Linked DNA regions of Homo sapiens: regions 2, 3, 4, 5 and 6 are each linked to region 1. Evidence: fine-mapped expression QTL. A gene starts in region 1. Each other region holds a variant in brackets. All regions are shown on one strand. Distances are from middle to middle.

Region 1 (5,051 bases):
TGGGCCACCTTCTTCTGAACTTAATTTACGTAAAAATAAACTTCAAATTTTTTCTAAACACAAGAATACAGATCGAGGTTATCAAGGAATTGAAGTGAGCCTTCAAGCACTGTGTGAAATGGCACATTCAGATTTCATCTTAAGCAGGCAGCTGCTTCCCAGCTTCAGTCAGCCACAGGATGGTGGCTTCATTTAATCAGATCTCTCATTTTTTAACAGATATCAGAAATTCCAACTTCTATATGAAAGCTCCCAATTAAAAAATGGTGGCTTGGCCAGGTATAGTGGCTCACGCCTGTAATTCCAGTACTCTGGGAGGCTGAGGTGAGTTGACTGCTTGAGCCCAGGAGCTCAAGACCAGCCTGGACAACATAGTGAGACCCCACTTCTACAAAAAATACAAAAAATTAGCCCAGCATGGTGGTGCACATCTATGGTTCCAGCTACTTTTTTGGAAGGCTGAGATGGGAGGATCACTTGAGCCCAGGAGGTGGAAGCTGGAGTGATCCATAATCACACCACGGCACCCCCAGCCTGGATGACAGAGTGACACTGTCTCAAAACAAACAAAAAATAATAGCTCAGCTTTTATGAAAAACACGGTGTAGCCTAAATACATCTAAGGATGATATTGAGCCCACAAGGCTGCCAGTTCAACTCTCCTTAGGGAGGTTCCTTTCTGGGCTCATGCTGAAGTCGCCTTTGTAAAATCAGAAATGTATCTGTTCACATTTAGCTTTTAATATCCCATGGGCAAGGTGAAATAGGGGAAGATCATGGGCAAGTGCCCCCCTCTACTTCTGTATACCACACCAGACACTGCGTTTTATTGCCTCTTCTTGGTGTGTAGCAAATATATCAGGAGTCCACTCAAAACTTATTTATTTATTTAACACTGAGTCTTGCTTTACTGCCTAGGCTGGAGCGCAGTGGCATGATCGCGGCTCACTGCAACCTCCGCCTCCTGGGTTCAAATGATTCTCATGCCTCAGCCTCCCAAGTACCTAGGACTACAGGCTTGTACCACCATGCCCATCTATTTTTCTATTTTTGGTAGAGACGGGGTTTTGCCATGTTGGCCAGACTGGTCTTGAACTCCTGGCCTCAAGTGATCCACCCACCTCGGCCTCCCAAAGTGCTGGAATTATAGGAGTCAGCCGCCGTGCCCGGGGTCAAAACTCTTTTTCTAAAATGTCGTTAGAAGGGGGTTGTGACAGCTCTGTGCAACTTGTCCCCTTTCCTGTTTGCTTATGTAATTCTGTTGGAAAGTATTAAGTTGTTTAGCAGAATGATAATATTTTCAGATCGCTTTTGTCCTTTAAAAAGGATGTGGCCTGCCTGCCTGGTGCCTGGGAAGCTGAAATACCAGGAAGAAGAGCAAAATCCTGGGTGTTTTTTTGAGAGTGAGAGGAGGACAGGATTTTGATTGTTCTACAATGATATACAACTCTTCCCTACTCCATGCCACACTGAGAGGCAGAGTGGTGGACGTACCTGGGAGAAGCCTGCGGAGCCGAATGTGCCCTCCAGGATGGACTTTTATATCTTGATAAGCCTGGGGGTCACCATGCTGCGTAGGGAGGCCGGAGACCTGCCACTGACGGTGGTTATCCCATGTCATGGCTTTCTTCATTCCCACTTTACCTTTTTGAGGCTGGAAGGTATTTAGGGGATGACAGAAAATCAAGTTTGAAGGTCAATGGAAATATTGGGCACCCACTAGAATGTCCCACATCTGTAAATACATGTGCATCTTTGTAAACACTTAACAGCTGTTTTGGGGAGTGCTTGTTTAAATCCACAGATGGCATTTTGCCAGAGGCCTCCTTCAGTTCCCTATTTCTCTCACTCAAGGTATCCTAGTTTGGAGATCCAGACCAGGTGCAGCCCATGTACCCTGATGAACCCCAGGTTCCCCTCTCCAACATCTTTCTCACCCGACAGGTGCGGCCCTGAAATGGGTTTCTACTGTCTCCTCACACAGTCCCCATGTTCCCCTCCTCGGGTTAGTTTTAGGGTAGTCTAGCCTGGGAAGGAATTTGGGACTGATCATGCCACGTTCCCTGGAATGGGACTAGAAAGGAATCCTGGGCTTCGTGCGGACCAAGGCCCCACTCAGGTTGTCATGGAAAATGAGGCTGAGAGCCCCTCTCTGCAGCACCCTGTGGGACGGAACCCGAGGTCTCTGCTGGTCCCGGTGGGCACAGACCTGCAGCCAACCCGGTGTTCCGTGAAGCCCTGATTTCCCAATGAAGCCCATGGAAGCCATCACTGGTTTCCATGGGAGCGGACCATGGCCACCCCTGCTCCTGTTCCCTGTGGGAAAGGACCAAGGCCGCCCCTGGTCCTGGTCACTGTGGGAAGGGACTGTGGTCACCGCTGGTCCTGGTCCCCTTGGGAGGGACTGTGGTCACCGCTGGTCCTGGTCCCCGTGAGAATGGTCTGTGGTCACCGCTGCCTGTTCCCTGTGGAAGGGAACGTGGTCACTGCTGGTCCTAGTCCTCTTGGGAGGGACTGTGGTCACCGCTGGTCCTGGTCCCCGTGTGAGGGACTGTGGTCACCGATGGTCCTGGTCCCCGTGGAAGGGACTGTGGTCACCGCTGGTCCTGGTCCAGGTGGAAACAGACCGCGGCTACCCTGGTGATGGACCCCACGGGGCACACCCGCGCCACCCCGCACCCAGGGCTCGCGCCGCCCGAGGCCCCCGGTTCCTGTCCCCCTCCCCGCCTGGCGCCGGAACCTGCGAGCTGGGGCGCGGCCTCGGGGAGGGGCGGGCGGGACAGACCCAGCCGCCCCGGCTCCCCCGCCGTCCGCGTCTGCGCCGGCCCCGGGGCCTGGTCGGCGGCGGCGGGGCCGGTCGATGGCCCGGGCGGCGGCGGCGGCATGCGGCTCCTGTTCCTGGCGGTGCTGCGGCCACACACCGGCAACGCGGTCACGGCCCAGCGCGTTCGGTAGGTGCAGGGCGCCGGGGCCTACGAAGCCTGGGCCGGGGGCCGGGGGGCGGGGACGCGGGACCCGGGGACGCGGGGCGCTCAGCCAGGCCCCCTCCAGCCGCGCCGGGGCCGTCCCGAGCCGCGCGCACAAACGGATGGGCCGGTGCCGCCTGCCGGGCGCGCGGGGGTCGGTGCCTTCTGCGTGGCGCGCGTGTCCCCGGGTCTCCGTGCGGCCGGCGCATTGGCCTCGCGCTCTCCGGAGGGGACTGAGCAGGTGAACAGGCCCGGAGCCTGTCGTGGAGGGGCCCGGGAAGGCCTCGCTGCAGAAGCAGGATGGGAGCAGGATCCGCAGGGATGCGCAGCGGGGTCCGCGGAGCTCCCGGCGGGGGCGCGTTTCCAGGCCGGGGACCGCGGTGCCAGCCCTGCCCTCGCGGATCGGGTCTCGGCTGTGTGCCGGCGTCCGGGGTCCTGTCCCCGAAGTCCCTTTCCCACCTCCCCTCTGCCCTGTCTATTCTCGTCTTCCTGGCTGGTTAGCTCCTTCACACTCATCTTTTTCTGCCTTTGTCTTATTTGTTTACTTGTTGGTCTGTGTTCTGGTCGCTGGAACGCAAGCCCGGCGGGGGCCCGGGGAGGGGCCGCCGCGTTAATCCCGCCGCCTCCCACCCGCACAGCGGGCGCTCGGCCTGTATTAGCCGGATAAACATATTCCTTGAGGCGAAGCCTGGGAAGTGCCAGGATTAGAGCCTGCAGCTTAACAGAAGCCGTGTGTGTGTGTGTGTGTGTGTGTGTGTGTGTGTGTGTGTGTGTAAAAGCGGACTTGCTTCATGAAATTTCCCGATTTACTTCCCTTCTGTGGGCCTGTTTCCCCATCAATTTATTTTTTTGAAATGGAGTCTCGCTGTGTCACCCAGGCTGGAGTGCAGTGGCGCAATCTGGGCTCACTGCAACCTCCGCCTCCTGGATTCAAGCATTCTCCTGCCTCAGCCTCCCAAGTAGTTGGGATTACAGGTGTGCACCACCACGCCCGGCTGATTTTTGTATTTTTAATAGAGACAGGGTTTCACCATGTTGGCCAGGTTGGTCTCGAACTCCTGCCCTCAGGTGATCCGCCTGCCTCGGCCTCCCACAGTGCTGGGTTTACAGGTATGAGCCACTGTGCCCGGCCTCCTCATCATTAAAATGAGCAATTGAGACTCCACCAACACTTTCATGTCCCTTTCAGCTAATTTCTCCTAAAGATCATAAGCAGAAATGACCAAGAGAGGATCCATCAGTTTTCTGAAATTTGCTGGAAAATTTACACTCAGGTTTCATGGTGCAGGTTTCTATTAAATAGGTCAGTGATGCTCTGCTTGGGTTTAGCAGTGAGGAGCCCTTTGTGTTCCTGGCTCTGTTGGATGAACCAGCATCCCAGTATGGGAGAGGAATGAAGGAGGTGATTTCACATAGGGATTAGTGCTATTAAGAAAGCAAAACTAGGAGGCTGAGGCAGGAGAATCGCTTGAACCTGGGAGGCAGCTGTTGCAGTGAGCCAATTGATCTGGGATCACGCCACTGCACTCTAGCCTGGGTGACAGAGCCAGACTCCATCTAAAAAAAAAAAAAAAAAAAACAACAACAACAACAAAAAAAACAAAAAACCTAGGGCAGGCTTTCATGGCGGCTCAAGCCTGTAATCCCAGCACTTTGGGAGGCTGAGATGGGAGGATTGCTTGAGCCCAGGAGTTAAAGACCAGCATGGGCAACATGGTGAAACCCTCATCTCTACAAAAAAAAATTTAAAAATTAGCTGATGTGGTGTGTGCATGCCTGTGGTCCTAGCTACTCAGGAGGCTGAGGCAGGAGGATCAGTTGAGCCCAGGAGGTTGAGGCTGCAGCGAAGTGACATTGCACCACTGAACTCCAGCCTGGGTGGCAGATCAAAACTCTAAAAAATAAAACAAAACTGTTAACGGAAAGAGGTCCTGATCCAGAACCCGATAGAGGGTTCTTGGATCTTGCACAAGCAAGAATTCAGGGCGAGTCCTTAAAGTGAAAGCAAGTTTATTAAGAAAGTAAAAAAATAAAAGACTGGCTACTCCATAGACAGAGCAGCCCCAAGGGCTGCTGGTTGCCTTT
Region 2 (5,051 bases), 43 kb before region 1:
GATAAACAACTCATTTCAGCACATAAAAATTATGAAAACAGAATGGAAATCCTCAAAAGGATAACTCTCCTCATCAGAGTTTAGAGACTTAGGCATTTGTTCTTATCAGGTTTATCTGTAGCGGGAGGAGATGCTGCCCAGGAGCCTGTAACAATCTAGAAACATTTTTGTCACCAGAAAAATGCACACAGAATTTTACATAAAAAATTCAAAGGACTCGCAGGCACCCTGACACTTGTTAATAAACCTAAGGTTAGTAATCTGAAGGTGGAATTCTCATCCTTGAGGATGATACAGTACCTTTAATTTACAAAAATTCATCTATTCAGCATTCAATAGCCTAATTCTAAATCAGTAGGTAGAGAAAAACCTCCCTTTAACTCAGTCCAAATGTCACTTTTCAGAGCAACCCAATGGTTTTAGTACCAGCAGAAAAATGACGTATCCTTAGGAAAATAATCTTAAACTTTAAAATAAAGGATTAGTGCTGTAAAATAACTGATACACATCCTCTTTTACAGACATGCACTTCCTGAACAACCTGGGGCACGACTGCGTGTGAGCACTATATTCTGAATCCACAACTGCTGCAGTCGGGCCTGAGGAGGAACGGAGCAGAATGCCTCTTACCTGCAGCAAAGGCCGAGCACATGACAAAGAACATGCCCACGGCGATCCTCTTCAGGGAGGATGGGAGCAGGCCATGTCTTCTCAAAATGGGATCGACCAGTTTGTCCTTCAGAGGGATGAGCAGGAGGATGAGCACAGCATCAAACATGGTCAGCCAGGCTGCAGGGAGCTGGGGTGAAACACAGGAGGAGGCGTTTACTCCCCGCAATACAGGCCATCACCTGTCTAGAGAACCAACGTCTCAATGGGAGAAATGCACGTAAAGAACAGTTCCTCTCCACAAGGTACAACCTCTTCAGTTTAGAGACAACGGAACTGGGAAAAGATTTCTTTCCAAATGAATCTGCATTTGCTTTTCTGTGTTTTGAGGGGAAAATAATCAGGTGAAAAATACTAAGTAATGTTGAATTGATGTTAGTCAACCTAATCTAGCAAATGATACAACCAATGAAAAAATATTCTCTAAAATAAGTAAAAACTCTATTTCAATAACAATGCTTTTGTGTCGGTGCTGTTAACATTTATAAAAGATTTACAGTTGGTAGAAGGAATCCATTTATTACATAAGTCCAAAATAACAATGTTCAGATCATTACAATTGTTCTTACCGTGTGAGGAGTGGTTGTAATATTTGAAATTTCTGGAATCCTCAAATGAAGACTCTGTAAAACATATGTTGTCTGCATCTAGGTATAAAAAACAGTATCATTATATGTGGACCAACTGTGCTCTCAAACACTCTAAGCATCCTGCCCCTCCCCTAAGCTAGACTCAGATGCGACACACAGTGACTCCCAGAAATAGACAATGGCTCAAGTTTGAAAACAGACAGGTCAATGATTTGGTCATCGTAAAGTCCTCTGGAGATCAATTTTGAAAAAGAATGGCCAGTTATCCAAAGGAGAAATTACATTAACAAGAGGGGCCTGAAAAACCAGAAGCGTACCTGTTCTCAGCTTCTTTTTCAGAGAGGCTTTAGACATAGTTAAAGCAGCCAAAATGACTCCATAACTAAAACCAAAAATTCCAAGATTCTGTAGACTCATGGGAAAAAAAATCACCTAGTCCTACCTACTTTAGAAATGGCCAAAACAAGTGCTAGGGTAAGACTTCATAGGAAGATAAAGGAAATTAAACCTGTTTGTCACCACTCACTTGGAAATACACTGTCCAGTAAGGTATCAAAGCCAAGAAAACAGGGACAATCTTGACCAGAGCTTTCACATCTTCCACTTTCTCTTCTGTAAATGGCCCACCATGAGACATCTTACATGAATCAAACAGACTTTGTTTAGAAGATTGCTGAAAGACTCCAATGCCTTCACTTTGGGAAATAAAATGAAGGAATTAGTTTTCTTCCCCTCCCAGCAATCAATTATTTGGTCACAAATTAAGTTTGGAGGTAAGAAACCAGCTCACTGTATTGAATCTGCTTCAACTCATTCCATCACTTACTAATTGTACACACCCAACACAGCTACCTAAATTATTTCTAAATGTCACAGAATGTACTGAAACAGCTGACAAAGGGACTTTCTAGTCAAAGTGAAACTGGGCTACTGTAATTTTGGCGTGGCTGGAAGATCTGTGATGACAGTGTGAACCACGGCTGAGCTGAGAGCCCCAGCGCAGCTGCCAGCTCGGCAATCTCCGTGTGGGGAGAGTCTGCAGCTCTACGTGACACTGGGAGGGACACTAGCTATGCCACTGGATAGCATATGAAAAAATGCACTGGATTGTGTGAATTTTTAATCAGCTAATTTATCAAACATCAAGACCTGACAGCCAATACCCATGCTGTTAATAAAACCCTGCTGGTTTAAACTGAGTCACTGGCAGGACTGAGGCAGGCTTCTATTCTCGGAGGAAAGCTGTCAGCTCTTGGATTAAGGAAGAGCTGTTGGGGGAGGGC[G/A]GTGCTGGTGGTGATGAGAGGAGGATGTCCCTGGCTCTGTCCCCTGACAGTAGGAAACAGGGAGTGCCCAGTGCACCGCGTCCCATGTGCTCCCTCATTAACCATGTGGTGTTAAAACTCTTCAGGGCCCTATTGCACAGAGGAAGATGCCGGGGCACAGAGAGTGTGAAGGGTGCCTGAGGTATGGCCAGGACTTGGACCCAGGCAGTCTTGGCTTTACAGCCTGAGGCCCTGACCCCTGCAGGACACCACTGTCCCTCCACTCCCTGCCACTGCCCTCACATCTGCCGGTCACAGCAGGAACATGGACCTGGCATCCCCAGCTCTTGTACTAACGAGTTTCACTTCCTTGCTCTGGGCCTGCTTCATTATTTAGAAAATGAACAGGCCCCACTAGACAGCTCCGCACTCTCTCCCAGCTCCAAAACACTCTAATGGGGAACGGGCTCCAAGGATCTCAGGGGTAAAATGGGAAAACAAAGTGCACACTATTCTCTAAAGCCAGAAGTACCAGGAGAGAGTTAATTCCCAATAAGATTGTGTTTAACTGTGGGAAGCCAACAGAAATGGCACCTGTCAGCCTTCTAGTTTATTAACTCATGTCCCATTTTACTATGGTGCCAGTATTTTAAATTCTTTATCTTATAAAGTCAACATTTTAAGTCTGGACATTCAGAGTGGGGAAAAATAGAAGCGCTGAAAACTATAACTGAATATTTTAGCCAAATTTTGGACAAGAAAACTAAGTTCGATTCAACAAATACTGATCGAGTACCTGCTGTAGGCCCTGCATTGCTCTACCTGGGGGCTAAAGGGGAGGGCTCCTGTCCTTACGGACTTAGTCTAGTGGGGGAAAATAATCAAAAACAAAAACACCCAAAAGTGAAAATAAATTCCAAAGACATTATAAATACTTTCACTCGAAAACATTAACTTCTTCAAGTACTACTTTTTTTCAAAAAGGAAATTAAAGTCCTTTTGTACCTAATGCAGATACTATCAGTGGTTTACCACATCATATTAAATACCTTTCACTAAAAACATTTAAATAACAAATAAACCCATTTTCACACAAAGAATCATTCACACAGGTTACTGGTTATATTACTTTCGCTTTATGTAATTAAAATATTTAAAAGCTGTGAAATCAACATGCATCTGAAGCTTTACTGGGTTACACATATTGTTAGGTGCACTATTTTGCAACATACAAGGGTCCAACACGAAGCCACGGTCACAAGTGACACCCGAACACCCACAAGAGCCCTCTGCTCCTCCCACACAAGTTGACGAGCTCCAGTTTCAGGACGCCTGTGCCTGAGTCTCTGTGAAGGCCGCATGTAGGTGTGTGTATTCTCCAGGAAAAGAGTCCACTGGTTCTCACGGATTCCCAAAGAAGTATGTATCTCAAAAAGCTGTAGAACCATTTCTACTCTGGTCTGATGAGTTGAACAAATACGCCTTCATTTCTCATTTAATATCAAGCACTATATTATCTTCAAAACACAGATCAACCTGGATTGAAACTGAGATTGGGCCAGATGAAATTAAGTGTCACAACTGTAAAAATGTTGGGTATGTCATGCTTCCTCAGGCTTTGGAGGCCCAACTTTTTTTTTTTATTTTATTTTTTCGTTTTTGAGACGGAGTCTCGCTACCTTCCAGGCTGGAGTGCAGTGGTGTGATCGCGGCTCACTGCAAGCTCCGCCTCCCGGGTTCACGCCATTCTCCTGCCTCAGCCCCCCATGTAACTGGCACTACAGGCACCCGCCACCACGCCCGGCTAATTTTTTGTATTTTTAGTAGACGGGGTTTCACGTATTCGCCAGGATGGTCTCGATCTCCTGACCTCGTGATCCGCCCGCCTCGGCCTCCCAAAGTGCTGGGATTACGGGCTTGAGCCACCACGCCCAGCCTGGAGGCCCACCTTTTTTAAGGCACCCTCGTCACAGTGGTCACCACTGACAGGGCCCTTATCATGTACCTGGCATCCTGCTGAGGGCCTTGCACACATCACTGTGCTCAGGCCCCACCGTGAGCCCATGAGATGAATCCATCTCCGCTGTAAAAAAAGGAAAGCTGGGCTTCGCAAGATCAGTAACCTGCCCAAGGTTACAGAGCCAGTTCATACAAACAGCAGAATCTGAGAATTCCTCAGACCATCAACTTTTCTGCAAGCTAGCCCCTGCTTTTTTTTCCCTTATTTTTGCCCAAGAAGACTTTCAAAGACTATCCTAAGAGGAAATCGGCTTCCTAAGTAAAAGTAACTCCAAACCCTCTCCACACTGCCATTTGTGCTTTAAAACCCAAATATGTCCACAGAACAATGCTGTTCTCTTGCAGAAATGTCTATGGGCTACCACCCACACGGATACTAAAACTTTAAGGGTTGTTCCTGAAAAAGACCTCTAGGATCCGAAACACTGCTTTTGTCTGATCAAATAAGGCCCTGGCAAAAGACTAGTGTCAGCTAAGATGGGGCTATATTTTTTTTTTTTTTTTTTGAGAC
Region 3 (5,051 bases), 34 kb before region 1:
TCTCTTATCTATTACAATACTGAACAGAGGTCCTAGACCAAATGCAGACATCTCTACTGAATAAAGAGTTTGAGGTGAGAACTTCACAGACATCTAAGACACTTCTTCACTAGGACACAATGCATTTAAATATTGCTCAACAGTGGACACCAATTCTCATGCTATACTAGACATGGACCAGGAAGAAAAATGAAAAATGTGAGCAGAGAAATGGTTACTGAGAAAACAAAACTAGAAGTGCGAAAAAATAACAAACAAAAAGTAATTTTTTGACAAGCATAAAAGAGGCCAGTAAACATAGTATATAAACTTAATAGAGGCACAAATGATTTCCTAACTGAAATGTACTCGGACCTTCCCATTACCCACAGTGACACTGCACACACCTTCCCACGGTCTCACTCGGGCCTTCCCGTTACCCACAGTGACACTGCACATATCTTCCCACAGTCTCAGACTTATGTCCTCTTCAGATGAAGCATGAAAATATCAGCATTTGATTACTCTGGGAAAATCCTAACCTTAAAATGCCATTCATCCTCATTTCCTGTGTAATTGTGGTGGTCAATTTATTCCAACTCCAAGAGTAATCCATCAAAATTACTTTATAAGCCAAAATTACTAAGCCCTAAATAACCACACAGCAGGCATTTCTGTACCAAGGGAACCTGGCTGCTGTGAAGGGACATCACATGCTTCCCAGCCCCTGGCGAGCAGGCCACAACCTCCTGCCCATCGTTTGCATGACATCACTGTGTGAGCTGCAGCTACGTGCCCTACCAAGGGTAAACAAGGTTTTCACATGACTGGCCAAAAGATACCACCAAAATCAATTTGGAGAAGAAAAGCTAAAAGAATAGAATTGTGTACAGCATACCAAACAGTTGGCTGACAGAAGAATTCCTTAAAATGGGGTGTCAGTTTTTCCTCTAGAAAAAAAAAAAATGCATCATTTGCTCTTTTCATCTGTAACATAAGATTTTCGTCTTTCAGGTCACTATTTCAAATAATCCATCCACCAAGAACGATTGTGACCTTTGAAAAAGGTGAAACACTGGGGGAAGATACGGCCTGACATGATTTACACGAACATACGTCTCCCTTGGACTCACAGCTCACACATCCTCTTTCAGAAGCCAACTAGGCCTCCTTCTCAAAGCTATGCAGCCTCACCCCATTGTCTCTCCTATCAGAATGTTTCCCAGAGGCTCTACCTGGGAGATGAAGAGGTAAGTGACAAAGAACCATAAAAAGCACCTTAAAAATACAAACAGGTTTCCTCTAAATGAAAAGGACCAAACCAGGACAAATTAACCCTCGCCTGGGGCACAACAGAGTGTACTTCAGGCCTGCACACCTCAGGGTCCCCAGCCAGGCCTCCTGCCATGAAGCAGCCGCACCTGGAGGGGGACCTGCCACCTGGTCACGGGCAAGCACCCTGGCATAAGGGTACTTTTCCCTTCAAATGTTTTTTCACTATGATTCACATACCATAAAATTCACCCTTCAAAAGTGTACAATTCAGTAGTGTCTAGTATATTCAGAGATGTACAGCCATCACTGCCATCCAAGTCCACATTCTCATCACACCAACAGGAACTCCTGTTCCCTTTAAGTCAGTCCCACGCCCCTCTCCTGGCCCGTGGCAACCCTTAATCTACTTCCAGTCTCTGTGGACTCGCCTCTTCCGGGCATTCCACATCAATGGAATCACACAACTGGGGCCTTATGTGTCTGGCTTCCTTCATGCAGCCGAATGTTTTCAAGGCTCATCAGTACTTCATTTCTTTTTTAATGGCTGAAAAATATGCCATTGTATGGATATACTATATTTAGTTTATACATTCATCAGTGAACATTTTCTTATCTTTCATTTAAAAAAATTCCAAATGTATAGAAAAGTTGAATTGCAAAATGCACAC[C/T]TCTCTACCCTTCACTTGGAGCCTCAGCACTTTTTTCTATACATAAAAAATACTGGCCGAGCGCGGTGGCTCACGCCTGTAATCCCAGAACTTTGGGAGGCCGAGGCAGGTGGATCACCTGAGGTCAGGAGTTCGAGACCAACCTGGCCAACATGGTGAAACCCCGTCTCTATTAAAAATACAAAAATTAGCCAGGCGTGGTGGCTCACACCTGTAGTCCCAGCTACTCAGGAGGCTGAGGCAGGAAAATAGCTTGAACCAGGAGGCAGAGGTTGCAGTGAGCTGAGATCATACCGCTGCACCCCAGCCTGGACAAGAGAATAAGACTTGGTCTTAAAAAAAAATACTTCTGGGTGATCTACATACAAATAAGCTCCAGCAACCAATTTCACCCCCAAAATTTCATCATGAATCTCCTGGAAATAAGGACATTCTTTTAACGGCAGTGAAATTACCACACCTAAGAAAGGCAACATTGGTCCATTATTAGCTAATAGGCGGTCTACAAACTATCCCAAGCATCCAAGAAGAACGGCCATGAAAGCAGCTGGGATCCAATCACTCAGCACGCGCTGCAGGGGGCGGCCAGGTCTCCCGAGTAGCCTTTCATCCACAAGGTCCTCTTTTAACATGACAGCATTACGTCGGAAGAGATCAGGCCAGCTATCTTTCGGAAGAAGGCACATCTCCTTTCAACATCCACATTTAATTATGGATGAAAGAGCGCATATTCTGTCAGATTCATCTGAGATAACCGAGCACCATTTCCTCCTCATTTTAAGAAGTATCAATTACTCGCCTGTTATATCCTGGAGAGCACCAGCTTTTAAGTCAGGCTGCCAGGGCCCCAAACCAGCTCCCCTAGGCACCTGCTGTGCAGCCTTGGGAGCTAACCCTCTAGGCCTCTGTTCCCTGGACAACAGGCTTAACTGCAGCACACACACCAGCAACTGTGGCGAGGCTTAAATAAGATCACGTGGGAAAGGCACAAGTAAGAGGCATAATAGAAGCTTTCCAGTACACCTGTGTGGGGTGGCCAAGTCTTTAAAAGATAGAGGCTGACTGTGCTACCAGCCCCGTTCCTTCATGAGCCAATGGCACCCCAAGGCCAAGAGCCTGGGCCTTGAGATCCAGCCCTGCAGAACCATTACGGAACGCACGCACACTGGGCCCATCTTAGTGTGGTAGCTAAAAAAGAACCAGAGCTGGGATAGAAGTCCAGCTTGACCACTCACTACCTACAGGCAGTAAGAAAGTGATCTGTTTTTGTGCCTGTTTCCTCATCAGTAAAGTGGATCTAAGACTCCTGTGAGGTTCAGATTTCGTCACATATGTAAAGCATACGCCACTGTACAAAAAACCCAGTTCCAATTCAGTACATTAGAAACTATCATTTCTAACGTCATTCTAAGGTGTCTCCTGACTGTAACGGATAGCCTTACACAGGCAGAGTGAAAGCTCACATTCAAAGGACAGGCTTTTGAATCCTGGCTCAGTCACATACAAGCTGTGTAACTTTGGGCCAATGATTAAACCTCTCAAGCCTCAGTTTCCTCATCAGTAAAATGGGCACCGTACGTGTCATGTAGACTAAGTAGTCGTGTAGACATGTAGACATGTAGCATACGTGTCATGTGGACTAACCAGATACTGTACTTAGGTACTTAGCAAGCACTGTGCCTGGTGCACAGTAAGCTCTCAGTAAATGTTCCTAAAAAACAGGCACTCACAGATACTTAGGCAAAAGCCTAAGAGTCGCCTTCCCTACTGCTCACATGCCATGGTTTCCATATCTGACCCTCCAAACCTCATGAAGAAATGTGATCCCCAGTGCTTCTCGTGGGGCCTAGTGTTTGGGTCATGGGGACGGATCCCTGAAGAAAGGCTTGGGGCTGTCACAGGAGTGAACTCTCCTATGAGAGAGGTCGTTTACAAGCCTGGCACCTCCCTCCCCTCTCTCACTTCCTCTAGTGCATGTGATCTCTACACAGCTGGCTCCCATTCACAAGGCCCTCAGCAGTGCAGATGCTGGCGCCCTGCTTCTTGTACAGCCTGCAGAACCCTAAACCAAAGAAACATCTTTCCATTATAGATGACTGAGCCTCAGGTATTCCTACATAGGAACACAAACAGGGAGACAACCTGCCAGTACTTCCTGCCCATTCTACTTCCATAGCTGAACTCCATCCATCCACTTCACCCACCTCCACTGCCTCCACTCTAGTTAGGAGAGACTCCCACCTCATGTCCCTAATGTCACCACTTCCTACACAACCCATTCTCTACAAGCATCCGCACACTTCTGTGAAGGGGCAGGCAGTTCACATTTTGAGTTCTATGAGACATCTCGTCTCCATCACAGTTACTCAATTCTGCCACTGCTTAGTGAAAGCAGCCCCAGTGTAGTGGCTGTGTTGCAGAAACAGGTGGGGCTATGTTCCAATAACGCTTTATTTATGGAGATTGAAATTTGATTTTCATAAAATTTTCACTGGTCACAAATGATCCCGTTTCCGACCACTTAAAAATGTAAGAACTAGCTGGGCGCCGTGGCTCATGCCTGTAACCCCAGCACTTTGGGAGGCCGAGGCAGGCAGATCACAAGGTCAAGAGATCAAGACCATCCTGGCCAACACGGTGAAACCCCGTCTCTACTAGAAATACAAAAGTTAGCTGGGCACAGTGGCGTGCACGTGTAGTCTCAACTACTCAGGAGGCCGAGGCAGGAGAATCGCTTGAACTCAGGAGGTGAAGGTTGCAGTGAGCTGAGATCGCGCCACTGCACTCCAACCTGGCAACAGAGCGAGACTCCGCCTCAAAAAAAAAAAAAAAAAAGAAAGAAAGAAAATATTAAGAACCATTCTTAGCTTGTGAATCCTCAGAAAATAAGAAGCAGACCTGACCTGCTACCCCAGCTGTAGTGCCTGCTCTGCACAAATCACTCCCTGCTGGAACCCAGTAAAGCTCTCGACTGTATCCCCAACGCTTTAACACTCCTCACATGATCCGGCCCCAGCCTTCCACCTCACTTCCCACTTTTTTTTATATTTTCTGAAACGATCTGACTTTGCTATTGCTCTTAAAGGCGGCCTATTCTGCATATAATACTTGGTGGCCACGTCCTTGCCC
Region 4 (5,051 bases), 94 kb after region 1:
TGATCACCACACGCAGCAGCCGCGAGGACACCCCCGTGGCCGCAGACCGAGGCCCACGCCGCGCTGGCACCAGGGCTTTGGCCTGGCCCGTGCTGGCCGGCTGGCAGCGCCACTAGCAGGCGGCGACCGCTGACATTTATCTTTGTCTCTTTTCAGGTCGATCCAGTGTTTACAAGGGAAGTGAAAGCCAAAGTGAAAAGGTAAGAGTTGGTGGAGACCAGTCATTTTGCAGAACGGGAAGCCTGAGTGGCCCCTGGGTTACCTGAACTCACATTTATCCAGTCCCAGGCACTATTCCAAGCAGTTTCCAACTGTTTCCTCATGCATCTTCCCGGCGAGCCCGTGGCATCCTAGGCACTATTATTTGCCCAGGGAAAGGCCAATAAAAATCACTTTGTGATTATAATTTTTAATGGATCACATTGGCCAGAATGGAAAGATTTAAACTCTCAAGGATTTGGAAGAATGGAGGGGTATTGCCCTTTGTCACAGCCTGCCTGGAGGGCAATTTGTTGGTGTGTTGGTTATAAGTTGCATTTGTCGGCCAGGAACCCAACAGCACAGGCTTGAACAGATTGAACTTTCATTGCTCACATCAACAAGTCTGAGGGTGGTCATTCAAGGAGCAAAACGGAGGCTTCCCTGAGACCTCAGGGATTTGGCTCCTGTCTCTGTCCTGACTTCCTCAGCCTGTGGCTCCCATCCTGAAGGTGACATGGTAGCTATAGAGCTGTGTCATCAGTCTGCATTTTAAGTGGGGTGATGGGAATGAGCAGACCAGAAGGATGTGGGTCTTATTTGGGTCAGCCCCCTGTAAAGTGGTGTCTTCACAGCCCCCCAGGATTCCAGCCAGACTCATTGGCCACACCAACCACAAAGGGCACTGACAAAGACTGTTTTTTCCCCATCTATAATCAGGGATCTTTAGATTGCTCCTAGGTGCAGACGCGTGTGTGCAAAAGTATCACCTGCTCGGGGAAGGGAGGCCTGGCAGAGCCATGAGAGTGGTGGCCAGCGGTGGGGACGGGGAAGATCGAAGAAAGGCGAAGATTTACATTGTCTGGTGAAAAAAATAGAACAAGGCAAAATGTCTATGACAAAATAGCTGTCAGCGCTGTGTGCTGGGAACAGGGCTTTTGTGACATTATCGTCTCTAGTATTTCTATTTCCATTCTTTTTTGTTGTTGTTGTTGTTGAGACAGAGTTTCGCTCTGTCGCTCAGGCTGGAGTGCAGTGGCGTGATCTCAGCTCACTGCAAGCTCCACCTCCTGGGTTCACGCCATTCTCCTGCCTCAGCCTCCTGAGTAGCTGGGACTACAGGCACCCGCCGCTGCGCCCGGCTAATCTTTTGTATTTTTAATAGAGACAGGGTTTCACCATGGTCTCGATCTCCTGACCTCGTGATCACCCGCTTTGGCCTCCTAAAGTGCTGGGATTACAGGCGTGAGCCACTGCGCCCGGCCTCCTTTTTTTTTTTTTTTTTTTTTTTTTTTTTTTGAGACCTAGTCTTGCTCTGTCATCCAGGCTGGAGTGCAATGGCACAATCTCAGCTCACTGCAATCTCCGCCTCCCGGGTTCGAGCAATTCTCCTGCCTCAGCCTCCCAAGTAGCTGGGATTACAGGTGCGCACCACCACGCCTGGCTAATATTTGTATTTTTAGTAGAGACGGGGTTTCGCCATGTTCGCCAGGCTGGTCTCCAACTTCTGATCTCAGGTGATCTGCCCGCCTCAGCCTCCCAAAATGCTGGGATTACAGGTGTGAGCCACTGCACCCGGCCTATTTCTATTATTTCTATTCTTATTGTCTCATTAGTATTTTAAAGAATTATTTGAAAAAAAGTTGAATTATTAGAAAAATGTTCTCTAAATCATGCAGAGAAAATGGCATGAACCTTGTCTCTGACTCTTCTAGTCCTTGAGAGCAGGTGTCTTTATGGAGCATATGGAAAACAAAAGCAGACATGTTAAGCAACTCCCTCCCTCCCTTGTCAGGGACATGAGCTGTAAGGATTTCCACCCCAGTATAGTTCTCCTGGCTGAACGCTTGGTCAACAATGCTTACTTGCTGATCTAGAGTATTACACCCAAATTGTCATCTCTCCTCCTCCCAGCTGCCTACCCATGAGATTCTTGGAATCAGAGCCACTCTTCCTGCTTTGTGTTTCAGAGCCGCTGGGGTACGATTGATTGGAGAGATGCCTCAAGAAGATCTGCACGCGGTGGTGAAGAATTGCTTCGCGGTGGTGAATAGCTCTGTCTCTGAAGGCATGTCAGCTGCAATTTTGGAGGTAATTATGTAACTCGAGTACTGAAAGTGGGAGTGTGAAATTGTCCATCACTCCTTCTCCTATTTACGGAGGTGACGTCTTTGTCAATAACATTCTGCACTTCTCAAAGCTAAAAAGGCCAAGCAGCATACCTGTTGGAGTTCAAAAGTACTTTTGAAGTTCTATCTGGGAGTTTAAAAATATCATTTCATTTCTCATTGCTATCTCTCCTAGCCAGCTACGATGTAAAATAAAACTGGGATAGCATTGCCTCTCTGACCTTCTAAATATCTCTGACAGGAAGGCAGCTAAGGTTACAAAAGATTGAGACAGGAAACAGATTGAAGGTATTTTTGCAGGAAGCCTCCCTTTACTTGATCTTTTCTCTTTCTTTTCCATATGTTCTGTAATTCCAGAATTTAAGGGAGGGGAAGAAAGGGCTGGACTTTGCAGGTGGCAGGAGACAGGGGCAGGGTAGTGTTCGTAGATGACGGGGTGGCGTGGGGGCCAGGGTGGATCTGATCTCTTCATCTAGCAGTCAGCTCTATAAAATCGCTTCATCTTTTTTGACAAAATGTGTCTATCCCAGCACCACTCTGCAATTCCCCACCAGCATATCTGTGTTTTCAGGACCGAGGCTGGAGTGGGAAGGCCGTGCTCGTGAAACCCAGGCAGGCCCTGGCTGGGCTGTGTCCCCTCTTCTGTAAAAGATCCTGGCAATCCTCGCATTCC[C/G]TTTGCAATGGGACCACCTACATCTCTTCTCCTCCTTGAGAGGTTTTTGACTGGGGTATTTAACCATTATCTTCGGTGCTTGATATTAGGTCCTAGAGAGAATCACCAGCATGTGTCTCACAGAAAAAGATGTTCCTTCTCTTGTTTCGTTGTTAGTTCATTGCCCTGGGGGCTCCTGAAGAATGAACCCAGAAAAGGGCAGGCTGGGCTCACTCACACCAACGCCAGCCTTTAGCACTGGGTTTTCCTCATGCGATTAAAGCACCCAGGACCACAAGCCTGATTCCCTTGGTGGTTCTCAGCACACACACTGCACACGACAGACATGGCGTAAACAAGCATTGATGGGCACGTGATAAAGCCTGTTTTCCTGTCGAAAGGAAACATGTGGCCACTGCTTCCTGAGGTCTTTGATCCAGGTTTCATGTGTTCTTTCTGAATACGTAGATTTCTTATGTCAGTGTCTACTTAGGTTCACGCTGTTACTTTATCATAAGTCTTTGGGATATCCATGTATCCCCTTGGATACCAGGTGAATGTACTGAACTTACTGACAAAAGTTAAGATCTGCAAACCTTTGGGGTCCAGAGAGAACATGGTAAATAAACTAGGAAAAAAATCCTCTCCTTACATTTAAGAAATGACTGACGTTGTATGCATAATATTTGCTCTTAATTTGGCATCATTTATAAAAGAAAAAAAAGACCCCAAAGAAAAAAACACAGAGGGAGATGGCAGAAGCTGTGTGTCCGTGCCCATGAATCTGCTGTTAGGTGCTTTCAGAGCACAAAGTGTGAGTTTGTAACGTGATCATCCTCAGCCAGATGTCAGCACCTCTGCTTAGGGGTTGTCACTAGTATTAATCTCCATTGTCCTTTCAAATTACCTCCCAACTGCAGTCCTCGGGGCAATACATTTTATTCGTCATGTAGGCTTTAAAAGTGTATATGCTTATGGTACCAGTATTTGAACTATTGTGAACTGCTCCTTTGTAGGTAAATATACATTTTTTTTCAACTTCTTAAGGAAAGGTAGAGTGAAATTCGGGAATGATTTTATAACTAGCACACACAGCACTTCACTGCGGATGAATCGCTGTCAAACCTCATTTACTTCAAAGCAAAGGCAGCTGTTAGCAACTCTGACTGCCTTAAAATCTTGATGTTGTGTTCCTTTTGAAAACTCCAAAATAACCTTTGGGCGAAGTGTTTTGAATGAAACTGATTTTAGAGGAGTGGTAAGGGTGCATTTCATTAGAATTCAATTCAGATAGCCACAGTGTTTAATCATGGAATAAGTGCCTATCACTTTTGAAGGAAGTGACCTTTTGACCTTTCAGAATTAGCTGTATTTTCCCATGGAAGCATAGAAACGTCCCATTTGCAGAAACACGTTTCTTACTGATAAACTCCAAAAATCAAACTTTAGCTGGATTCGTGGGCAGCGGGGTGAACAATTCTACAACTAATCAGTTGTTTCCACTTTTGAGCTTTTTGACGGAGTTGAATCCTGCAGAGAATTACATTAAAAGTATATAAACAGTTATTTGCTTATCCCAGCCATCATGATTAGGCTCACACACACACGCACACACACAGGCACACACACACACGCTCACACACATGCACCTACAGATGCATGCATGCACACACATGTACACACGCACATGCACACGCACGTACACACACGTGTACGCACACACACACGCTCTGCCTGAGAGAGAGGAAGCCCATCTTCTAAAGCAGAGACGAGCACCTGCAGGAAGGAGGGGATTCCTGGCCTCTTGGCTTCCAGACTCCAGCCCTAGTGATTGAAGTGGGATGTGAAGGCATTCAAAGGCAGCTGCGACTCTGTGTCACTTTAACCTTGACTAGTTTCTGAGTGTGTGTGTGTGTCTGTAAGTGTTTGTAAGTGTGTGTGTGGATACGGCAGTGCGAGGCCTTTCCCACTTTGAAAAGCGAAGGGCCTTTTGAGTTTTCATCATTAGGAAGATGCTACTGGCATGTATTTGGGATGGAGCAGCTGCAGGGAGGTGGGGTGCCGGTTCAAGG
Region 5 (5,051 bases), 840 kb before region 1:
TTTGAACTAGCCACTGTATAGACTCAGATATGCTCTATTTGTATGTATCAACTTTAAAAAATGATGATGTTGAAATAAATAAAAGCTTGAAGCAATGTTAAATAGAAGCTGAATAGTTGAAGAAGACAGTAGAGTCTGTTTCTTGTTTATCTGAGTATTTTCTGGCATATATAACAGATAAAATACTTATTGTTTATCAAATGAATGAATTAATGAATTAATAAATGATATATATCAAAATGCATGCAGAAATCAGATGAAATTAGAGCCAAGTTAGGACTCAAATGAGAAGGAAGTTTATGCTGGCTAAGCAGGAAGGATATAGGCTCTAATCCTGGTTCTGCGACTAAGTTATCACATGACCTTAGAGAATGTCACAGTCTGAGTGTCAGTTAAACCCTCTACAAAATAAGGGACCAGCCTGTGTGACCTGGGAAGCACTGGGCTTTCACTCATGTCGTGATGCTCCAGGGGGTGATAGAGGCATGGACACACACTTAAAATTCTGAGCTGATAATGAGATTCAGGGAACTTTTAATATCTCCATCCCTCTGGCTCCAGCGCGAGCTAGAAGGAAAAGAGATTCAATTGCTCAATTGGATTTTATGGTTCCCACTTCTCAGGGGATTAAGAGAGCATTAATGAGCACCAATTGTGTACAATAGGAATATGGAAACTGTTTCTGTATTTAAGGACAAGGAGGTTAGCAGATTCCGATTGAGTAGGCTATGTAAGTGAATGTGAATGACGCTGGTTCCATGAAGCTAAGACTATTAGTGAGAAAAGTGAATCCTTTTATGCATGTATCCATTAATACAGCTAGAATCTAGCTAACACCCACTTCATCTGGCATTGTGCTGGGCATTGGAAACAAAGAGATGAAGCTGATGGACCTCACACACTGACGTTCTGAGGGAAGAAAGGAGGAAGTACAGAGTAGTCTCTGGTATAAACAACAGGAATTATGGCTGTGCATGGGTTGGGATACAAAGTGCATGTAGCTGTGCCTAATTCAACCTAGCAAAGTGAGGGTGGGAGGGGAGAACATGAAGACCACCACGGAAGATTCTTAGAGGATATGAAGAGCAAGCAGAATCCTGAGCCAGGTTTAGCCTGATGAATAGCTTTAAAATGAGTTGTAGGCCAGCCTCAGTGGCTCTCGCCTGTAATCCTGGCATTTTGGGAGGCCGAGGAGGATGGATCACTTGAGGTCAGGAGGTCGAGACCAGCCTGGCCAACATAGTGAAACCCCGTCTCTACTAAAAATACAAAAATTAGGCTGGCATGGTGGCGGGCACCTATAATCCCTGCTACTAGGGAGGCTGAGGCAGGAGAATCACTGGAACCTGGAAGGCAGAGGTTTCAGTGAACTGAGATCATACCACTGCACTCCAGCCTGGGCAACAGAATGAGACTCCATCTCAATAAAAATGAAAATAAAAATAAAATAAAATAAAATAAGATGTAACTAAAAAGACCCCCAACTGACCAGAGGGGCACATATTCATGCATTTTAGGAGACTGAGTTAAACCAGCATCTTTGCAGCGTTGGCTGGAAGGCTGAGAATGATGAGATATGACCACACGTATCAGGAGGGCTAAGATAAAGGGGTTTCTGGCAGCCTAGTTTTAGGGCTGTTGTTAGAATTAAATTTTGTGTTTTTCTTTTTTTCAGCTTTGTGGACATATAACTGACAAATAAAAATTGTATATTTTCAAGGTGTCCAATGCGATGATTTGGCACATATATATTGAGAAATGATTATCATAATCAAGCTATTAACTCGTGCATCATTTCACACAGTTACATTGCGTGTGTGCGCGCCTATGATGAGAACATTTGATATTTACTCTCAGTAAATTTCAAGGTTGCAACACATTATTAGTAACTATAATCACCATGCTGTACATTAGGTCCACAGAATTTATTCATCTTTACCCTGCAAGAGAAGTAAATTCTAAAATGCAAGTAACATGCTTGGCTTAGCACCTGGAAAAAACATTAGCTGATGCTTGTAATAATGTTGGTCATGACAATGGTAAGACAGAGGTGGGAGAAGGTAAATAACAAGGAGGAAGAAGAAAATGGGAGGATAAAACATAGAAAGTTGTTTTTATAGTTGAGCATAAATAGAAGGGAAATTTATGTCTTGGCCATAGGAGGGAAACACAGCCCAGAATCACCTTTTTACAGTGAACAAATTTGAAAAATATTATTCTTATAATTGGGCAACTTATAGGAAACAAATTTTCTGGAATTGGACAACAGGCAGGGCAAAACTACGATACCTGAAAAAAGAAAAACAAATAAGATGAGATCTATCACTCCCAATTTCTGGACTGCAGGGCAGGGAGGGTCAACCCAAACAGAGCCTCCTGTTCTCACTGAATTGAGGAGAAAGAGATTGGACTTTGGGAAGGCTGATGTTCCTGGGACTTACAGGACAGAACACCTGGAAGGAAGGAGCTGTGCAAAGCAGGAGTT[C/T]CAAAAATGTGCACACAGGCACACTTGAGCCTTCGGCTGATAAAAAATCTCCATATGTATTGGGAAAAAACTCACAGGTTGAATAAAGAAAAACTTCTGGGGAAATTAAAATTGCCAGGGAGCTGTATGATGAAAATGACCAGAGTTCACAAAGGAGCTGTATGATGAAAATGACCAGAGGTCACAAACGGCTGGGAATCGTTTTGTTTATACATAAGGCATTCAGTAGAGAAGAGCCACACCTTAGAAGCAGACCTAAATTAGCTATAGATTAAAGGGTACTTTGGACAAGTCTTAAAAGTGGTTTAAAACAAGACTTAAACATCAAACTGATATAAAAAATAAAGTTCAATGTATTTCATAAGAAATACAGAAAATCTAGCATATGCCCATGCAAAATTTAAGCTGTCTAGCTTTCAATTAAGAAATTACAAGACATATGAAGAAGCAGATAAACATGACCTAAACACAGGAAGGAAATAAGTCAGTAGAAACAGACCCATAAATGATAGAGATGATGGCATCTTCAGATATGAGCATTAAAAGAGTGAACATACTGAGTCTACTCAAGGATTTAATGAAGAATATGAATGTAATGAGAAGAAAAAAGGAATCTGTATTAAACTGCTTTGTACTGCCTCAAAGGGCACTGAAGCTTTGTTTTTTTGTTTTGCCTTTTTTAAAAAAAGACATATTTATCTCTGTGCTTCATTTTGCAACTTTTTCTTTGGATGCACACGTATAATTTTTGATGGCTGAAGAAAAGTAATTTCTTCTTCTGTAGTATCTATATAGCTGTTACCCCCTCCACTGAAATATTTGTGTGGTTATCATATATTTAATTTCTAAATGCAATTGGAGTCCAAAAAAGAGAGAAGTAAGAATCCAAAATAATTGAAGAAATAAGAGCTAAAAAATTCCAAATCTTATGAAAACTGTAAAGCATAGATTCAAAATGATAAATAAACCCATAGCCAAAGAAACATAAAGAAAACTACATTGGGACTCATTATAATAAAATTTCTGAAAACAAGTAATAAAAAGGAATCTTAAAAGTAGCAAAAGGGCCGGGTGCGGTGGCTCACGCCTGTAATCCCAGCACTTTGGGAGGCCAAGGCGGGCGGATCACGAGGTCAGGAGATCGAGACCATCCTGCCTAACACAGTGAAACCCCATCTCTACTAAAAATACAAAAAATTAGCCGGGCGCGCGTGGCGGGCACCTGTAGTCCCAGCTACTCGGGAGGCTGAGGCAGGAGAATGGCGTGAACCCGGGAGGCGGAGCTTGCAGTGATCCGAGATCGCGCCACTGCACTCCAGCCTGGGCAACAGAGCGAGACTCTGTCTCAAAAAAAAAAAAAAAAAAAAAAAAAAAAACAGCAAAAGAAAATCTATGTGTATATAAATTATGTTCTACAGAACATACTTAGGAAATAATTTTCATCAGAAACCACACAGCCCAAAAGAAAAAAGAGTAACATCTTTAAAGTACAGAGCTATAAGGAAATGAAAAATCCCGTCACTTAGAATTGTATATGCACTATAAACCTTTTTCAGAAATAAAGGCCAAAGACTTTTCAGACAAAGGTTAAAGTAATTCATTAGAAGCAGATTGGCAATACCCTAAGGGAAATTCTTTTGGGGAAAAGATCCACTACACACGAGAATAAAAAGTACTGGAAGTAAGTAGGTTGGTAAATATAAATGTAACTATTTTCTAATTTCTAAATTAATGCAAAAGGTAATTGACTTTTTCAAGTATAAATAAGATAAATAAATTAAAGCATTTATAATATTTGTGGAAGCAAAATGTAGCAAGAAATAGCACAAAGGATGAGAGGGGAGGAACAGAAGTATGCCCTTGTACATTTTCAGACACACATGAAATGTCAATATTATTTGAAAGTAGGTTGAGATACGTTACAATGATTATTGTAAATTTTAGGGTGCTCAATTTTCATTTTCCAAGATTGTTTTGGTGCTTTCTATTTCCATATACATTTTAGAATGTGCTTGGCAATTTCTACAAGGAACATCTTCTGAAACTTTAATTGGGATCTCGTCAAATCTACTGATCTATTTGGGGATATTTCATATCTTAATATGGAAGCATGACAGCCTTGAGCATGAAATATTACATAGCTTTGTTGATTCAGTTCTTTAATTTCTCTCAGCAGTATTTTGTACTTTTGAGAGTACAAGTCTTTCACAAATGTCAGATTTATCCTTAAGTATTTAATGATTTTAGATATGTTGTGAATGGTATGGTTTCCTTAATTTCACATTTTAATTTGGAGGATACTTTTTGTAAAGCTATTGTAAGCAACAAAGTACACTATGTGCTTCTGTTTGTGTGTATGTGTATAACTGATGACAGGATAGAGAATATACAAATATAGCCACACGTGTATGCTTTTCATAAGTCTGACAGTGTAACTCAATAGGAAATAAAGTCTTTTCAACAAATGATGGGGGCACAATTGGATATCTGTATACACAAAAATAAAAATCAACCACTACCTCACACAATACTCAAAGATTGACTCAAAACTATTGTACATCTAAAA
Region 6 (5,051 bases), 52 kb after region 1:
GCAGATCACCTGAGGTCAAGAGTTCAAGACCAGCCTGGCCAACATGACGAAACCCTGTCTCTACTGAAAATGCAAAAAATTAGCCGGGCATGGTGGTGTGCACCTGTAGTCCCAGCTACTCAGGAGGCTGAGGCAAGAGAATTGCTTGAACCCAGGAGGCCGAGGTTGAAGTGAACAGAGATGGTGCCACTGCAAGACTCCGTCTCAAAAAAAAAAAAAAAGAAAGAAATATTTTACCTGTGGAAGCATGCTCCTTTTCCATGAATTCATTGCCCTTTTCTCTAACTTGTCAGCCTTCAATATCATCCTCCACCATAAATCCTTCCTTGACCCTCCAGAATTGGCATAGATGAGTTCCCTTCCTCTGTCAGTTACCTTTTGCTGCTTAACAAACCAGTTGCCTTAAACACGCAGGGTGGCCTCACTTCCATGCCTGGACCTTAGCTGGGATGGTGGGGACCCCTGAGGCCTGTCTCCATGGGGTCTGTCATCCTGTTTTAGGCTCGGCAGGAAGAGAGAACGGGCCTCAACTCACAAGCACATTCCAGGCCTCTGCCTGTGATAAGCTTGCCTCCTTCCCATTGACCAAAGCAACTCAGCGGGTGGAGATACGGTCCCCACCTCATAATGAGAGGATCTTTAATGCTGCCTTACAAGGGCACGGATGCAGGGAGGGGGAGAATTGATGGCCTCTGTAACCATCTGCCACACTTCATGCTTGTCTCTAATGAGTATAACATGTTTTACTTTCTTCCCCGTGCTTCTCAAGTGGTGAGCTTCTTGAGAAAGGGACATGAGGTAGTCACTCGTGCATCCCTGGAGAATAGTATATACTGTCTCAGGCCCGGTGAATATCCTTTAAATTGATTGATTAGGAACGACTCCTCCTTTAGAACCTTTTGGTTTTTTTAAATATTTTTATTTTTATTTTTTGAGATGGAATCTTGCTCTGTCACCCAAGGTGAAGTACAGTGGCGCAATCTCAGCTCACTGCAACCTCTGCCTCCCAAGTTCAAGCTATTCTCCTGCCTCAGCCTCCTGAGTAGCTGGGATTACAGGCTCCCGCCATCATGCCCAGCTAATTTTTGTATTTTTGGTAGAGACGGGGTTTCACCATGTTGGCCAGGCTGGTCTCGAACTCCTGACCATGTGATCCGCCCGCCTTGGCCTCCCAAAGTGCTGGGATACAGGCATGAGCCACTGTGCCCGGCCAGAACTTTTAATTAAAGAAATTTTCAGGCATGTGTAGAAGTAGCAAGAATAGTAGAGTGAGCCCTTTATGTGCCCATGACCCAGTTTATTGTTCCTCAATTCTTATTTACTCTACTTCCTCCTGAATACACACACACACCTACACTCACACACACACATACAATGTTTTCGAGAATAATTTCAAAAATTACCAATATCATGCCATTTCACCTATAATTATGTGCCATTTTACCTGCAAATGTACTTTGATAAAGACTTTTTTTAAAAAACATAAACACAGTGGTACAGGTAACTTTTGTATTGGCAGACCACAGTCAGTAAGGAAGAAATAAAGAGGGGTTTAAGAGCGTTCATACAACCTAACATTTTTATCAATACAGTTTGGAAGAAATCAAGGAATAGAATTTGGAGGGGGAAAAAGAGAGGAACTGAATCATTTGGTTCTGGATGTATTGACTTAGTGACAAATATTGGACTCGGGTAAATATCCAGAATAGAGCTGAGAATGTAGGACTGTCCTCAGAGGAGGGCACAGTTGGGGACACAGCCATGTGAGTCACTGGTGTCCAGGTGATGGTTAAAGCATGAAAACAGTCTTTTTTTTTTTTTTTTTTTTTTTTTTTTGAGACAGAGTCTTTCTCTGTTGCCCATGCTGGAGTGCAGTAGTGCGATCTCGGCTCACCGCAACCTGCGGCTCCCGGATTCAAGCGATTCTCCTGCCTCAGCTTCCCAAGTAGCTGGGATTACAGATGCCCACCACCACACCCAACTAATTTCTGTATTTTGAATAGAGATGGGGTTTCACCATGTTGGCCAGGCTGGTCTTGAACTCCCAACCTCAGGCGATCCACCTGCCTCGGCCTCCCAAAGTGCTGGGATTACAGG[T/C]GACTGCCACTATGCCTGGCTAATTTTTGTATTTTTAATAGAGACTGGGTTTCACCATGTTGGCCAGGCTGGTCTCGAACTCCTGACCTCAAGTGATCTGCCCACCTCATCCTCCCAAAAGGCTGGGATTACAGGCATGAGCCACCGCGCCTGGCCCATTTCCCACCCTAAACACTCAGCTGTCAGGTATTACACCACTTACGCCGTTTCCCAGAAGCTAAGGGTGCAGGTCATGCCTCTGTTTGGTCAAGGCCGAATTTCCTAGTACACACCCACTATATGTCATCAATATGAAAGTTACTAGTGACATCATATTTTACCTTTTTGTGTGTGAAGTCTTTGAAATCCTGTGTGTATTTTACACTCACAGCACATCTTAATTCAAACAGGGCCTTAGACGTGCCCTGGATCAGCCACGTGGCCACGTGTGGCGAGGGCTGTTGTGTGCTCAGGGCAGCTCTGTTTCAGGATTTCTGAAACTTACTCACACGATATCTGATCCTGGAGGACACATGAACGGACATGTGCCCAGTGAGGGTTAGTTTGTAACCGGTGAGTGAACTTCAGCCCCCAGGGCTGCTCTTGTGGAAATGTTGTCTTGGGAGCTGGGTTTATGATCGCCTACCTATCTCTGGCTGACCTTCACAAGTTAGTTTGATTGGATTTCAGTAAAGACGGTTTTATCTCTTTTAATTTGAAATGCCTTTGTTTATGCTCAAGTCATTATTTTTTAGTGTTGTTTATATCAGCCTTAATTTGACATTGTACCTACTTTGTAAAATATACAATCCTAGTGGGCTCCTCACCAGGTCAGCATGCTAGGCTGTTAATGCCTAGCACGCGTGATCAACGTAGGTTATGTTTTGGGATGGCATTACTATGTTGGTTTGTGATATTATAATATATCTTTTAAGTGTTTTTTTTTTTTCTTTATTAAAGGAGTCTCACTCTGTTGCCCAGGCTGGATGGAGTGCAGTGGCGTGATCGTGGCTCACTGCAGCCTCAAACTCGTGGGCTCAGACGATCCTCTCCCCCTCAGCCTCCTGGGTAGCTGGGACTACAGGCCCATGCCACCACACCTGGCTGAAATTTTGACTTTTTTTTTTTTGTGGAGATAAGGTCTCACTGCGTTGCCCAGGCTACTCTTGAACTCCTGGCCTCAAGTAGTTCTCCTGCATCAACCTCCTAAAATGCTAGAATTACAGGCGTGAGCGTCTGTGCTGGCCAGTTTCTGATATTATAATATTGATTTGACATTTTCAAGAATTTGATTCATTTCACATTTCTGATCCTGAAATATATGTTGTGGGAAGTTTGAAAATATTTTATGTAGGATTTTGATTTCTTGCTACAATATGTAATAGATATTCAGGATGCAAACTTGAGTACTTCTAGTTCTAGTCCACGTTTAGAGCGCTTTGTCTAAATTCATCAGAATTTCACCAGAAAATGTAAAAATTTCACCAAGAAGAAAAAAACACCCACGAACAAATTAAATGTGTATCTTAATGGACGCTTCTACCAGGAGAAGCAATGGTTATGGTTTAATATGTCTCCATTGGGCTCAAAACCCCTCATGCCTGTTTTCACACTCTTTTCCTAATAAGCATTCTTCTAAGAGGACATTATCTAAACTCAAATATTTATTTATGAGCTATATTTAAAAAATCCTGTTTGAGTAAATATTGCTTGAAGCAGTTATCAAATTCAAACAAAAAAAAGCACAGTGTCATTCATAATGGCCCATCAATATGCTTTGCAAAGGCTAAGTTTTCAGGTGTTATCTTTAGAGTGAGGTTTTTCTTTTTTTTTTTTTCTTTTTTTTTTCTGGAAACTTTGAGTCACCCCCTTCTGGGGCCTAATTTATCTACTTTGCCTTGGCACTTGTGAAAGAAAAGTAACTTCTTCAAGTTGCTGTGTTAGGCAAAACCTAAAGTGTAATTTTACTTTGTGTACATTTACTCATCAAAATTCTTTTGGAAATTAAAATATAGAAAGCAAGACAGATCTCATTGGCTGTCACAAGTGCAGTTCCTGTACAGGTGAGCTCCACAAGTCAGTGCAGATGTTAGCGCTGGCCTAATCGGAATGAGCTGCGTGTCTCCTTATCCCTAAAGTCTGCAGTAGAAGCATGCTGTCTTTTGAGCTACTTATTACTTCTCCCTCTTCCTGCATGGCCCCATTGCTTTATGTCTGATTACCTCGGAAAGTCATCTTGGCAGCAGCTGAAACTACACAGACCATACCTTTTATTAGAGTTCCCACCCTCCTGGAAACATAAAAATGCATTGAACACGTGGGTTTCACCTCTAGACTACCTCTTTTCTGTGCCAACCCTCTCACCTCTGCAGGAGAAGCTCCAGGGATTGATCATGTCCCAGGAAGCTAATCTTTTTTTTTTTTTTTTTTTTGAGACCGAGTCTCGCTTTGTTGCCCAGGCTGGAGCACAGTGGCGTGATCTCGGCTCACTGCAAGCTCTGCCTCCCGGGTTCACGCCATTCTCCTGCCTCAGCCTCCCGAGTAGCTGGGACTACAGGTGCCCGCCACCACACCCAGCTAATTTTTTGTATATTTAGTAGAGACGAGGTTTCACCGTGTTAGCCAGGCTGGTCTTGATCTCCTGATCTTGTGATCCACCCGCCTCAGCCTCCCAAAGTGCTGGGATTACAGGCGTAAGCCACCGTGCCCCGCCACTAATCATTTTTAATAGCTTCTATGAAGGTGAGCCCTCATTGGAGATTTCTGGATGGAACTGCAAATGTTCTTTATGTCTGTGTGGGTTTTTTTGTTTGTTTGTTTGCCCCCATGTGAGATCCCTGGGAATTGAGAAGTTTGAAAGGAACTCAGAAGTATGAAAAACGCATCCATTCCAGAGCATAGATCTTGAGTTTACTTTTTCCATGACCCGGGGCTCAAATGTGTGGTACCATCACAAGTATTGTTTGTAATTCATT

What was found. PIP is the estimated chance that this variant, and not a neighbour inherited with it, causes the effect.
Region 2: its variant is the best candidate, but not a certain one, in a credible set for the expression of GLT1D1 in whole blood (TOPMed, PIP 0.57).
Region 3: its variant is the best candidate, but not a certain one, in a credible set for the expression of GLT1D1 in whole blood (TOPMed, PIP 0.55).
Region 4: its variant is the best candidate, but not a certain one, in a credible set for the expression of GLT1D1 in whole blood (INTERVAL, PIP 0.65).
Region 5: its variant is the best candidate, but not a certain one, in a credible set for the expression of GLT1D1 in nucleus accumbens (GTEx, PIP 0.74).
Region 6: its variant is the best candidate, but not a certain one, in a credible set for the expression of GLT1D1 in liver (GTEx, PIP 0.57).

What each region holds. Positions count from the first base shown.
Region 1 is chr12:128,850,699-128,855,749 of GRCh38, forward strand. It overlaps GLT1D1 (glycosyltransferase 1 domain containing 1), which reads left to right and starts at 2,780. Exons shown (of 12, transcript NM_001366886.1): 1 at 2,780-2,951. The coding sequence starts at 2,884. It overlaps LOC100128276 (a long non-coding RNA gene), which reads right to left and starts at 2,397. Exons shown (of 3, transcript NR_148996.1): 1 at 2,378-2,397; 2 at 1,495-1,654. RefSeq lists silencers at 2,759-2,858, 3,049-3,248 and an enhancer at 3,110-3,761.
Region 2 is chr12:128,808,158-128,813,208 of GRCh38, forward strand. It overlaps SLC15A4 (solute carrier family 15 member 4), which reads right to left. Exons shown (of 8, transcript NM_145648.4): 3 at 1,786-1,954; 4 at 1,239-1,316; 5 at 631-799. Among named protein-coding and RNA genes, the nearest start is that of SLC15A4, 13 kb to the right of the region's middle. RefSeq lists enhancers at 2,645-2,744, 3,979-4,048. The variant G/A (reference allele first, on the strand shown) is at 2,543.
Region 3 is chr12:128,817,146-128,822,196 of GRCh38, forward strand. The region is part of intron 1 of SLC15A4 (solute carrier family 15 member 4); the gene reads right to left. Among named protein-coding and RNA genes, the nearest start is that of SLC15A4, 4.3 kb to the right of the region's middle. RefSeq lists enhancers at 779-858, 1,499-1,608, 4,824-4,943, 5,004-5,051. The variant C/T (reference allele first, on the strand shown) is at 1,923.
Region 4 is chr12:128,945,170-128,950,220 of GRCh38, forward strand. It overlaps GLT1D1 (glycosyltransferase 1 domain containing 1), which reads left to right. Exons shown (of 12, transcript NM_001366886.1): 9 at 157-200; 10 at 2,169-2,289. It also overlaps the pseudogene AK3P6. Among named protein-coding and RNA genes, the nearest start is that of GLT1D1, 94 kb to the left of the region's middle. The variant C/G (reference allele first, on the strand shown) is at 3,001.
Region 5 is chr12:128,012,809-128,017,859 of GRCh38, forward strand. No RefSeq gene overlaps it. Among named protein-coding and RNA genes, the nearest start is that of LINC02441, 12 kb to the right of the region's middle. The variant C/T (reference allele first, on the strand shown) is at 2,486.
Region 6 is chr12:128,902,816-128,907,866 of GRCh38, forward strand. All of the region lies in intron 4 of GLT1D1 (glycosyltransferase 1 domain containing 1), which reads left to right. Among named protein-coding and RNA genes, the nearest start is that of GLT1D1, 52 kb to the left of the region's middle. The variant T/C (reference allele first, on the strand shown) is at 2,098.